2 linked regions of the Homo sapiens genome follow. The protein of the gene in region 1 purifies or fractionates together with the protein of each later gene. This does not show direct contact. Each region holds a gene or a part of one and is shown on either strand. Other genes may lie near its edges.

Evidence for each region.
Region 2: the proteins of TMEM268 (region 1) and CDKAL1 purify together in Homo sapiens (affinity purification with mass spectrometry; one large-scale study listed by BioGRID and IntAct). This does not show direct contact.

Annotation. Positions count from the first base shown.
Region 1 is NC_000009.12:114,644,607-114,646,922, forward strand, and holds the end of TMEM268 (transmembrane protein 268), read left to right. Parts: 3' UTR 1-1,816; downstream 1,817-2,316. UniProt on the Homo sapiens protein: Stabilizes cell surface expression of ITGAM and participates in the adhesion and migration of phagocytes during bacterial clearance.
Region 2 is NC_000006.12:20,544,457-20,547,956, reverse strand, and holds part of CDKAL1 (threonylcarbamoyladenosine tRNA methylthiotransferase), read right to left. Parts: intron 1,619-3,500; exon of another isoform or gene 1,612-1,618; 5' UTR 1,607-1,611; coding exon 1,434-1,606; intron 1-1,433. UniProt on the Homo sapiens protein: Catalyzes the methylthiolation of N6-threonylcarbamoyladenosine (t(6)A), leading to the formation of 2-methylthio-N6-threonylcarbamoyladenosine (ms(2)t(6)A) at position 37 in tRNAs that read codons beginning with adenine.

The DNA.
Region 1 (2,316 bases):
TGTGGATTGATTGCTTTGCCATCCCCACAGCAGCTTTTGCAAATTGCTTTCCAAACTCACTTGAATGATGACATTGCTGTGGACCTGGGTTCTGGACCTGATCTGCCACTTCAAGCTGTGTAATTTTTGGCAAGTTGCTTTCTTTGCCTGGTCCTCAGTTTGCCCATCAATATAATGGGTGGATTGGATGATTTTTTTTTTTTTAATTGAGATGGAGTCTTGCACTGTCACCCAGGCTGGAGTGCAGTGGCGCGATCTTGGCTCACTGCAACCCCCGCCACCTAGGTTCAAGTGATTCTCATGCCTCAGCCTCCCAAGTAGCTGGGACTACAGGTGTGCACCACTACTCCTGGATATTTTTTTGTGTTTTTAGTAGAGATGGGGTTTCGCCATGTTGGCCAAGCTGGTCTTGAACTCCTGACCTCAGGTGATCCACCCGCCTCGGGCTCCCAAAGTGCTGGGATTACAGACGTGAGGCACCACAACCAGCCTGGATGATTCTTAAGGGCCCTTCTAGGACCAAAGTTCTGGGAATTTCTAGCTTATTCTGCCCCCTCATAGCCCTTGGCCTATCTATCTTTATCCACATGCAGAAACATCTGGCAACCCCACATGGCTGAGATGACCTGGTCCTAGGACACCCTTGGACAGAAGACTGGCCTACCTAGCAGACCTGGATTTTTCTTCCTGATCTGCTGCTTCCAAGTTGTGTGACCTTGGCTAAGTCACTTAACCTTTCTGATTGTCATTTCGCTTTTTAATAAAGTGGGTCTGGTGAACAAGAAATGTAATAAACACGTGGCTTGCCATTCAAGAGATGAGTCTGACCATTCACTTTCTGTGTGCCAGAGAAGAGAGATCATGGGTATAGACCAGCCCCTGGAAAGGCTGCTTTGGTCAAGGCTGAGAGCAGCTTTGCTCAAGGAAATTATTCACGAAGGTGACCACTGTCTTTCTGACCTGGCACAGAGGAAATGTTGGCTGTGAATGTGACCAATAGAAAGAAGCCCGTATTTCTCAGTCAGTCCTAGAACCCCGGTAAGTAATTAACAGAGAATAAAAATGTGTTTGTTAAATGACAAAGCAGCAGTTTTTCAATTGTAAGGTCTGCTTGAGAGCCTTTGATGTGTGTTTCTTTTCCTGACTTTTCCTTTCTTTAGAATTTTTGATGGTCTCACCTGGTGGGTGGGGCTTTCAGGGTATGCCCACAATGTACATTTCTCGGCATCTGTGCCTCAGTTTCCTCATTTATAAAATCCCTATGATCTCTGTCTCACCTACTTTACAGGGTTGCTGTGAAGATCGCATACTACACACAGGAATGCTCATCAGTTTTTAAATTTTATTTAATTTTTATTTATTTTTTTTTAAATGTAATTTTTTCAGAGAGATAAGGTCTTGCTATGTTACCCAGCCTAGTCTTGAACTCCTGGCCTCAAGTGATCCTCCTGCCTTGGCCTCCCATGCTGCTGGGATTACAGGTGTGAACTACCATGCCCAGCCAGCTCCTAAGTCTTAAGGCTCTGTGTTAGTGATAGATGTGGCCATGGTGTAGGCAGTGCAATGTCTTCGAGTGAGAGTGAAGGTGGTAACTCATTGCATGGATTCTAGAGTTCTGTTTATTCTAATCCAAGTTCTTCCACTTAAAAACAATGTTCTTCCTCTCATTGAGTCTCATTCCTCATCTATAGGATGGGAATAAGAGCATGTACCTGGCAGGTTGTTGTAAGGATTAAATGGTGTAAAAAAATGTCAAGTGCTTGCAACTTTGAATACCAAACTTGAGTGAAAGCTCAATAAATTGTTACTTAAAAAATTTTTTGTCTCGCATATTGTAGATACCTGATGTATATTTTTGTTGATCTAGCAGGTCATTAACCGTTAAGGTTATTCAGTCTGCCTCAGACCTCAGCTATTTCAGTGCCATGGGGTATATTTATGTCAATAAAGATTTTAGTCAAATCTCTGGAATTCAGCATCCAGAGATAATATAGCAAGGAGATAAAGAGCAAGCTGGTGACTTTGGGCCAGATACTCACTCTTACTGTACTTTCTGTACCTAATTTCCTCATGTATTAAGGGGGGAGTGTGATAATAAGGGGGATTAACGGGAGTGATTGATGTGAAGCACAAAGCCTGGTCCACAGTAAGGGCTCAGTCAGTGGGGGCGTTTCTTCTGCAGCTGCTGGCTGCTGTTGGCTCCTAGTTTATGTTATCCTATGTTATCTTATAGTTGAGTGTTTTTACACTTAGGTCTGTGATTCATTTTGAGTTAGTTTTTCTGAAGGTTGTAAGGTCTCCATCTGGATTAATTTT
Region 2 (3,500 bases), on another chromosome or scaffold:
AGTGGTTCTAGCAGCAATGGCAAATAAAGAAAAGTATGTCTGTTTACAGATTCCTACATACTAGTTGCAATCTGTAGCTTCCTTAAAACTTACAGATATAAGTAACTTAATCAAAGTTAAAAACCGTCATCCTAAAGCATTATTAAAAGCACTCTATAAAATCAGAGTTCTAAAAATAACTTTTAGGGGAAAAAAGGACTTTCAACTTGGATTGCTCTAATAATTTATAAGTAAATAAAAATTACCTTAAGGACACATTTAGGACAAATTTTATAAACTTCAGTCATTAAAATATAAGCAAATTTTAAATTCCAAGAATTTAAAAGCTTAGTTTCCCAACAAAATAAGCAGATTATAAAGTTCAGCAGTTGACTAGATAAACAAATATAGGCTTATTAAAACCATATAATTACATTATCCTTTCTGGTTAGGTTGTATCAAAATTTCACGGACTAGAGATCTACTATAATAGCGTAAATAGGGCAATAATTTATTTGTGCCCACTGCCTTTACCTGATCCACAGGTATTTGAAAATCAGCTAAGAAAATTCAAATGTCCAAAATACTACTGTCTCATAAGAATCACAAACTCTGGTAAAAATTTTATTTGGAAATAACACAGACTTACATATCAACTACAGTAATACCCAAGAGATCCCTATTGCCCGAGGCTATCTTCTAGGAACATCCAATTTGACATCTCATTTCTTTTTAACCAATTACCTTGCCAAATTTAAAATCATTCAAATAAAAAAAAAATCTACATACAGGTTGAGTTTCTTTAATTCAAAAATTCAAAATCCACAATGCTCTAAAATCTGAAACTTTTTGAGTGCCAAAATGATACTCAAAGGATGCTCACTGGAGCATTTCAGATGTTTGGATTAGGAATACTCAACTGGAAAGTATGTAATGCAAATATTCCGAAATCCAAAAAAAAAAATGTGATATCTGAAACACTTCTGGTCTCAAGCATTTCAGATAAGTGATACTCAACTTGTATTTCCTATCAAAAGTTCAAAGATTCTAATGAAGAGACATTATATATATCACACAGACCAGTAGCGTCAGCTTCTCCCTGGAATGAAAATGAATATAATTTCGGCCGTGCTCAGTGGCTCAGGCCAGTAATCCCAGTACTTTGGGAGGCCAAGGTGGGCAGATCACCTGAGGTTAGGAGTTCAAGACCAGCCTGGCCAACATGGTGAAACCCCATCTCTACTAAAAATACAAAAAATAGCCAGGTATGGTGGTGTGTGCCTGTAATCACAGCTACTAGGGAGGCAGAGGCAGGAGAATAGCTTGAATCCAGGAGGAGGAGGTTGCAGTGAACCGAGATCACACCACTGCACTCCAGCCTGGGCGACAGAGCAAGACTCTGTCTCAAAAGAAAAAAAAAGAAAATGAATATAATTTCAAGGAAAAAAGCTTACCTGTCACTTGGTGGACTGTTTTCTTCCTCTTGCAAATATTTTTGGGTATTTCGCCTTCGTACCTTCGGGACAACATCCTTTCTTACAAAATGCCTATCTTGTGGTTTTGAATCTTCCTGAGACACGATATCTTCGATGTCATCCAGTAGTGTATCACAGGATGCAGAAGGCATATTCTCTACCACATAAAAGTTATAAATAAAATCAACTTATGAAAATCTGCTTAGCGTAGCATCATTTATGAAATATTCTCACCAAATTTGAATCTAATCAAGCCTTTGGATCTAACTTCAAATTTATAGAAAATACAAGAGATAAAGAAACACAAGGATGAAGTACTATCTTGGGTATATTGAAAAAAGAAACACAATGAAACAATCAGACAAAACCCTAATGACAATGGGACATTCCAAGGTTCAACAGGAACTATTTCTTCAACAAATCAATGTCAAGTAGGAAAAAGTAGGAGAGGAACTGTTTCAGATAACAGGAAGCGTAAAAGCCTAACAACAAAATGCAGTTCATGTTCTTGATTGTTTCTTCTTTGTCTGTCAAGCTATAAGAAATTTTGGGTATAACTAGGGAAATCAGAATATAAGCTGGATATTAGATAATATGAAGAAGTTATTATAAATCATTCGATATAAAGTATTGTCCTTATATTCAAAAATTTTATTTTTTAGAGATGCATATTGAATATTTAGAAGTGAAATGTCATTATGTCTATAATTTACTTTAAAAGGACCTCAGAAAAAATAGACTGGCTAGCCACAGTGGCTTATGCCTGTAATCCCAGCACTTTGGGTGGCTTATGCCTGTAATCCCAGCACTTTGGGGAGGTGGGCGCATAACTTGAGGTCAGGCGTTTGAGACCAGCCTGGCCAACATGGTGAAACCCCATCTCTTTTAAAAGTACAAAATTAGCCAGGCATGGTGGTGTACACCTGCAGTTTTAGCTACTTGGGAGGCTGAGGAAGGAGAATCGCTGGAACCCAGGAGGCAGAGGTTGCAGTGAGTCGAGAGTGCACCACTGCACTCCAGCCTGGGCAACAGAGCAAAACTCCATCTCAAAAAAGAAGAAAAAATAGATTAAGACATACTGAAAAGCATTTACAACTCTTAAAACTAGAAACTAGATAGGTTCATGTTCATTATCCTATACGACTTTTCTAAATATTCAAAATTTTTATAATTAAAAGAAGAAAATGTGGACACAGCTTGCAAGAAGATAAGCACATTTTTCCCTGCCCCGCCAGCAAAATACAAATAAAACTCTGGACATTATATATAAAACAAGCATAAGGCAGACTGGCTATGAACCTCAGGACCCAAGGAATATGATGAGTTCCTTGGGTTTTCTTCTGCCTCCTACAGCTCACTAAAGATCCCAGCAATCAGAAATGGCAAGAGATGCCAACAATAAAACCCCCCAATAAAAGCCTGCTTTCTCGTTAAAGAACTATACAAAGGGCAGCCTAGGAAGACAGAAAAGTTTTAGATAATAATCATTCTACTCCAGCCAAACACAAACACACACACACACACACACACACACACAAAACTGTAATCCCACCCCCAGGCACGCTACAAAGGCCAAGTGGGGAGAGCTTGGACTTCTACCTACAATCAAGCACCCCAACACACTCCACTAGTGTAGAATCAGAGAAGGACCTGGAGGGATCCTGGACATTCAAACCAACCAACCGACCAGTAATGAAGTTTTGCAGTGTCAGTGGAGACCAAACTGATACACAAGTTTAAAATAATCCCTATCAAAATCCCAGGAAGATTTTTTTGTAGGTATAGATAAGACTATCCTAAATTTTATATGGAAATGTACAGAAACTAATATATTTAAAACAATTTTGAGAAGAGTAAAGTAAGAAGAACTGGTCTACCCAATTTTTTTTTTTTTTTTTTTTTTTTTTGAGACGGAGTTTCGCTCTGTGGCCCAGGCTGGAGTGCAGTGGCGCGATCTCGACTCACTGCAAGCTCCGCCTCCTGGGTTCACGCCATTCTCCTGCCTCAGCCTCCCGTGTAGCTGGGACTACAGGCGCGCGCCACCAT